2 linked regions of the Homo sapiens genome follow. The protein of the gene in region 2 purifies or fractionates together with the protein of the main gene of each other region. This does not show direct contact. Each region holds a gene or a part of one and is shown on either strand. Other genes may lie near its edges.

Region 1 (3,814 bases), on a different chromosome or scaffold from region 2:
ATTTTTGTTATATCTTAAGATTCATTATCATGTTTATACTATAGATTATATATTCTAAATAAGAACTGTCTTTATTTGATTTATTAAATGTTTTTGTTGTTCATGCTTAACCAGTAAACAATTGCCCAACCTTAAGCCAAGAATAAAATGACTGTAAAGTAGACAGTACATTTATTTTTGGTAACATAATATAAGGAACTAACTGTTGACTTTTTAAATGCAACAACCCCCAAAATAATAAAACTACTTACAGTAGTAAAATACTATAAAACACAGCTACCTAGTCAAGAAAATGTTAACAGAACCACCTGAGAGAAAGTTTTAGAGTATTTAAGACATTCTAAATCTAAAAAATGCATAGTAACCATTTCCAGAAAACTTTTATTCATGTTACCTTTAAGTGACAGGACAAACTGCTGAAAACTGACTTTAAAGTAGCAAAGAATTACCTTCTTATGATTAGAAACCCGTCTAAGATTGTCCTCTTCAATATGAGGGAGCTGCAGAAGGGGAGACTTAAATTGCTGAAGTCCCTGAACGGCCATCTGAGAAAGCTTCATGCAGTTTTCTAGGGATGCCAAAGTTGGAGCACGAAACTCCCTTTCTTAGAAAGAACAGGAAAAAAAGAAACAGGGCTGGACTTTTTACATGTTCAGGAGTATACAATTCATCACAAAAACAAAATTCACACTAAATCCATAACACCTCAAATTTGAGGATCATAGTAAGATTTTCCTTTAAAAGTTACCAGAGAAGACACTAAAAATATACAAACTCGATCTAATGAACATTTTCCAGCAACAACCATTGATTTAAAAGAAAAATTATTTGCCTCACCTCAAATAATAGTAAATTATCAGACATTATCAGTATCACCAACATATGACACCATGACAAGAACCAACATCACCCGTAACAACAAACCATAACCACTATCCTTTTTTAAGGGCATTCCTTTCCATTACTGACCAGAAATTCCCTCATTCTTTTCCTTCCATACCAAAAAAAAAAAAATGGCTAGGTGCCTGTAGGCATGTGGCTCATGACTGTAATCCCAGGGCTTTGGGAAGCTGAAGTGGGAGGATTGCTTAAAGCCAGGAGTTGGAAACCAGACCAGTCTGGGCGACAAAGTGAGATCCCACCTCTACACAAAATGTAAAGTTAGCTCCGTGCTGTGGTATGCACCTGTAGTTCCAGCTACTCGGAGAGCTAAGGTAGAAGGACTGCTTGAGCCCAGGAGTTTGAGGCTGCAGTGAGCTATGATTACCCTACTGGACTCCAGCCCTGGTAGATGCTGTCTATAATTAATTAATAAAAATTACATGACATATGAATCACTTTTATATCAGTTAAAGATTTCAAATTCACTGTTAGAAAAAATGACCTAACTCAAAAATTATTCAAAGAAAGAGAAATTTTAAATCTTTGCAAACAATTGAACAATAAAATAATTAAATTATCATGCCTGTAATCACAGCACTTTGGGAGGCTGAGGCAGGTGGATCACAAGGTCAGGAGTTTGAGACCAGCCTGACCAACCTGATGAAACCCCGTCTCTACTAAAAATACAAAAATTAGCCGGGCGTGGTGGCATGCGCCTGTAATGCCAGCTACTCAGGAGGCTGAGGCAGGAGAATCACTTGACCCTGGGAGGCGGAGGTTGCAGTGAGCCAAGATCGCGCCACTGCACTCCAGCCTAGGCGACAGAGTGAGACTCTGTCTCCAAAAAAAAAAAAAACAAGAATTAAAATCAAAAACACAGTGACCAGGGCTTTGGGAGGCTGAGGCAGGTGGATCACGAGGTCAGGAGATGGAGACCATCCTGGCCAACATGGTAAAACCCTGTCTCTACCAAAAATACAAAAATTAGCCAGGTGTGGTGGTACGCGCCTGTAATCCCAGCTGCTCAGGAGGCTGAGGCAGGAGAATCGCTTGAACCCAGGAGGCAGAGGTTGCAGAGAGCCAAGATTTTGTCACTGCACTCCAGCCTGGGCGACAAAGCAAGACTCCATCTCAAAAAAAAAAAAGAACAAAAAAAACCCAGTGAGCTGTGATATAGACTTTAAATAATAGAAAATATAGGAAAGAAATATGAAAAGACATGAGTAAAATTGAAGAAGCTCACTGAACTGGCCGACAGAAGTCTGAGTACCCATAAATCCTAAAATATGAAGTACAATCTGCATATGCTTGCAAGAAAAAGTATAACATAATTAACTATATTTCCTCCTCACCTTCACGGTTCCGGGCCATTACTATTAGTTGGCAGATTACATTAACCATTTCTTGAAGTAGGGCAGGACACTTTTTTAGCATGAATTGCTGATCTGCAAAACAATAAAAAACCTGAAACAGATCATTTTAATTTTACAGTTAAAGCATCTTTATCACTGTGGCCCAAAACTAATATTAAAGTTATGCCACAAATATTTCACATGATCTCAGAATTTTACAGATTGAATGGAAGAGTTTCTCCTCAGTATCACTATGTCAAAAATCAGCCATAAAACCCTAGCTCAGATTAGACGTTTCAAAGACAAATTTTTAATATCATAATGTTAGGCTTAATAAACCAACTCCCAGCTGGGCATGGTGGCTCACGCCTATAATCCCAGCACTTTGGGAGGCTGAGGCAGGCAGATCAACTAAATATGTCAAAATAAATATGTCAGCTAAATACAGGGGGAGAGATAAGAGACGTAGAAGAGAAGAAGAGGGCAACTTACAGAAAGAGAAAGACTCTTTCATTTATACTGCATATAATAGTTAACTATTAAGACCACATTAACCTATGGATTTGGTACTCAACAATGATTTGTTTCCTGCTTCTTACAGGTAAGTAAAAATGGAGATGCTTATGTATCTGTACAGAACATTAGCAACAGAATTACTAGTTAATTGAGTATTTCAAAGCAACTCCAATGATATTGCCTAAATAGTGCTCCTTCATTCCACCATAAGCATCCTGTCCTATCACCAATTACTAAGCGTCACATGGCCTTGTTTTCGGAAGCATTTAACTGCATTACTGCCTTAAAGGAGGTGGGGGATGGTAGGATATCATTCAAAAAGAACATTTATTTCCTAGAGGTAGTAACTGTCTTTTAAAACTTTAACTGAAATAATGTCGGTGAAAAAGAGATAATTAATGACATCCCTGGAAACACTGTTGCCTCCATCAACTACTTTTCTTTTAAGCAGAATACATGGCTTCAAGTACTTATGAAGCTTTAAATAACTATAAAACAGACATTATTGGTAACCACTGTCGGAGGAAGCTTGTAGATGGGGAGGTGAGAGGTGTTGGTTGTTGTGAAATCCATTTTGCTCCCTCCAAAAACTTACAAAGTCCTTTAAAAAAATTATTAGGAACTTTTGTATGATCTGCAATTAACTAAACATTTCTTATACAGAGCATTCTCTCACCTTGAAACACTAAATTTTAACACTTGCCAAAACGTCTGACTTACTTAGATCTTCAAACCATTTGTGAAGTAATTATGTAGCATATACATTTCTTTTTTAAAAAGTCCTTGAGCAATTATTTGGCCAAAAAAGAACAGCAACAAAACACACCGCACCACCATGCTATGGTTTGGGTCTGTGTCCCCACCCAAATCTCATGTTGAATGGTAATCCCCAATGCTGGAGGTGGGGCCTGGTGGAAGGTGATTGGATCAGGGGGGTGGAGTTCTCCCTTTGGTGCTGTTCTCGAGATACACTTCTCACAAGACCTGGTTGTTTAAAAACGTGTGGCATCTCCCCCATCTCTCTCTTCCTCCTGCTCTGGCCATGTGAAGACACTTGCTCTGCC
Region 2 (3,646 bases):
TCCAGGTTCATTGAGTAGGTACCCCTTCCCATCCACGTTTGTTGGCTGCCACTCCGACTGCTCCAAGAGCTGGGGACAGAAGAGCAAGAGGCTATCAACTCCCTTCCAGTGCAGACTCACCCTGTGGCCCTGCCCTCAATGAGCCAGCTCCTCTCAGCCAGTATCACACCCTTGGCCATTTTCACAATCTCAGATAGGATGCAGAAGTGCACTGCAGTCAGGACAAGGGCCCGGGAGGGAGGAGGCAGAAATGCATGTTGGCACTGGTCCTCAATTCATTTTCCCACCCCTCTCACACCCACTCTCTGGTATAGCATCTCCACGACTTCCCTCTCAACTGTGTAAGGACATAGTAAGAGGGAATGTGGCTTAAAACAAAGGTTAGCATAATAAATCAAGAAAAGATGACTAGAAAAGCTAGAGATAAGGAACGACATCCATGTCTCAATTTTTTGGGCTAATGGAACAGCTGGCGTACAACTACTGCAAAAACTTTTTTTTGAAATGGAGTTTTGCTCTTGTTGCCCAGGCTGGAGTGCAATGACACAATCTCAGCTCACTGCAACCTCCGCCTCTCAGGTTCAAGCGATTCTCCTGCCTCAGCCTTCAGAGTAGCTGGGATTACAGGCATGCGCCACCAGGCCCAGCTAATTTTTATATTTTTGGTAGAGATGGGTTTCACCATGTTAGTCAGGCTGGTCTCAAACTCCTGACCTCAGGTGATCCACCCACCTTCGCCTTCCAAAGTGCTGGGATTACAGGCATGAGCCACTGCCCCCGGCTGCAAAAACTATATTCACTTTCAAAACTGAAGCAGAAAAAAAAACCTGGAGGATAATTTGCTAACTTTTTCTATAAAGCCATCATCATATTAACGGATCCTAAAGGCTGATTATTGAAGCCTGATGTGCATTTCCCGAACTAGCAGGGCTGGGGCATGTTGGGGCAGAGGATGCAGGCCAGGGACCCATCGCTGATAGTGCCTGACTCACAGAGCTGTCTGATGCCCCAAGGCTTGCTTCAGGACGGCCTGTCAGAGGCCAGGCCTCCCACCTGCCTTCCCTTCCCATGGTGGCTTTCCCACCAGTCAAGCCACGTGAATGTGGCACTTGTGGGACAATGCAAGCAGCCAGGTGACAACAGCAGCTACCCATCCTCTGATTTGGAAGCTTCACTGGTTCTCTCTCCTCACTGAGAAACGGTCACTTCAAGAGTGCCCAGGTAGGAAGGGGCTTTACCTTCATGATGTCCTCAGGTAATTTCCCTTCCTCATCCTCATCTGTTGTAGCTGTGGATGGGGAAAGCAGAGAGGTTGGCTGGCAGTCAGCCACACTCACCCTGCAGTTCCAGTTCCAGCCCACCAGATCCCCCTGCCCTTTCTCTGTCTCTCTGTCTCTCTGACACACACACACACACACACACCCTCCCGGTGGACCTATCTGCCATAGAGATTCCAGAACAGGACCCTGGCCTGGTGACTCAGCCTCTCAAACCCTGAAGCCACGCCGCTTCCCACCCCTACCCTACTTCCTTCCTCACCCTCAGATGCTGGGCTACAGAGGAGGAAGGAGAACCAGCACCCCAAAATGCAGCCCCTGGCCCCCTTCCCTCCTCTCACCAGCCCCCACTGTACTGCAGCCCACTCTGAACTGCCTTCCTAGTGTCCCCGTCGCTTGCCTCCCCCTATGGTGGCTAAGACTGGGCAATGCCCAACTCAATCAATTCAGTGCCAGGTGGAGTTCTGATCATCTTTTCTCTCTCAGGAAGCCCTTCACAGGACCCAGACAGTCAAGCAGGCAGGCCAGGCCCCAGGAGCACCAACCTTCAGAGGTGGAGGGCATGGGTGACACCTGGAAGTTGTACAGATCACTGGTGCTGTCCGGCACAACTTCCACTGGGATGTGCCAGTCGGGGAGAGTGCTGCTGACAGCACATGGCGACAGTGCTGGGGAACAGCAGAAGCCACAGGTCAAGGTTGTGTGCTTTCTTAGTTTGCAAGACATCGAGCGCCCTCCGACCAACCCTGCAGCCTGCACTAATGGGCCACCATGTGCCAGCACCATGCCTCCAAGAGAAAGAGTCATCCCACTGACCTGTGGGGTCTCCTGCCAGACCTGGACCAGCTCACCTGGAGTCAGGGCCTGCTCCACCTCCAAGTCCTGCATGTAGCCTGGAACTGTGTAGCTGCTGTGGTCATCAGGCAGAGTGGAGCTGCTGAGTCCATCAGAGAAGGTATCAGGGCTGGAATCCCCACATGACTGTCGAGGGAGAAAGCAGCTTAGGCCCAGGCCCACCTTAGCATTTCTTCCACTGCTCACCCTGGCCCACAGGTGACCAAAGGCCTGGCTGCTTAGGACCACACTCACCTTCCTCTTGGCCTTGCTCTTAGCATCTCGGCTGGACTTCGACTTTCTTTCTGTGGGGCAGACGGGCTGTCAGCCTTGGTGCAGGCTCTCCAGCCCCAGCTGACCTCCTTCTACCCTCCCTCCCTGAGGGCTTCCCAAGGACCCAGAGTCCTTGGATACCTTTTCTCTGGTTCTTGGTGAGAGGTGGAAGCATCCGGTACACTCGCACAGCTGAGCTGCCCTTGTTCCTGCTCTGGTCTTTCACCTCCTCGATATCTGGCAGGGAGTTCATGGCACAGCGAAAGTTGGCCTTCCACGTCTTGGGATCTGGCTCCTTTTCCCCTGCTTTGTATCGGCCTAGAGGGCAGGAGAAAAAAGAGGATCGTCAGGGCCATGGGTAGGGATCCTCAGCTGCCCCTGGCCTGAAGGAGGAAGGCAAGGTACCCCTGACCTCTTATGCTACCAGAGAGCCACAGTGGTCAAACCAGCAGGTACTCCCGGTGACACTCTGCAGGTCCTAGGCCCTGGGCCTTCTCAAATGCCCAGGCTTGGCTTAAACACATCTAGCGGGCCTCAGTGAAGGGCCCAGCCAGAAGCACTAGAGTCCCCATATCCCCAAAGTGTACTATCTGTGTCTCAGACTATGCCCAGTCTTCCTCCTTGGGCTATCAGCAGCCAGAGGGTAGAGTGGGCACAGACTGGGCAGCAGAGAACAGTTACTAAATGGGTGGGCTGACTGTTCTGAGATGGGCCTAGAGCTCCATCTCTCAAGGATAAAGGAGGCCACCAACCACATGAGGCTTGGACCAAGGGCCTTGGTCAACACGAAGAAAAAGGCAGACCTGGGTCTCTTTCAGTGCCCTGGCTTACAGCTGCTTTTCACAGATGCTTTTGCCAGGGAGAACTTTCATCTAGCCACAAACCCCCTGAAGCCACACACTTTCTAAGATCTTGGCTTTTCCCTTTGAGAATTTGCTGAGATGATCGACTCTCTTCTCCAGAAACACAAGTCTGCCACCAGCCCCTCTTCCCAGTAATTCTGCATGTTGTCTCAGGGAGCTCAGGGACCCCAGTGAAGAGCCTCTGTGTTAACGTGAGTGCCTCCTCTTGTCTCTACCCTGGGCTTCCTAGGCCTGAGTCCCAGGCACACACCTGTGTGAATGGCCCAGCTCCGGAACAAACAGGCATCCTTGTTGATGTCCCAGCCATGCTTGGCAGCATGCTTCCATGGGATCTGGAAGATCATCTCCTCCTGAACAATACACACATACACATAAGGCTGTGTCAGGTCAGAGACCACA

What was found.
Region 1: the proteins of IRF1 (region 2) and SEC63 purify together in Homo sapiens (affinity purification with mass spectrometry, with the first as the bait; one large-scale study listed by BioGRID). This does not show direct contact.

The regions. Positions count from the first base shown.
Region 1 is NC_000006.12:107,902,395-107,906,208, forward strand, and holds part of SEC63 (translocation protein SEC63 homolog), read right to left. Parts: intron 2,328-3,814; coding exon 2,235-2,327; intron 605-2,234; coding exon 450-604; intron 1-449. UniProt on the Homo sapiens protein: Mediates cotranslational and post-translational transport of certain precursor polypeptides across endoplasmic reticulum (ER). Proposed to play an auxiliary role in recognition of precursors with short and apolar signal peptides.
Region 2 is NC_000005.10:132,484,429-132,488,074, forward strand, and holds part of IRF1 (interferon regulatory factor 1), read right to left. Parts: intron 3,598-3,646; coding exon 3,498-3,597; intron 2,703-3,497; coding exon 2,526-2,702; intron 2,417-2,525; coding exon 2,367-2,416; intron 2,259-2,366; coding exon 2,129-2,258; intron 1,946-2,128; coding exon 1,823-1,945; intron 1,289-1,822; coding exon 1,239-1,288; intron 70-1,238; coding exon 1-69. UniProt on the Homo sapiens protein: Transcriptional regulator which displays a remarkable functional diversity in the regulation of cellular responses.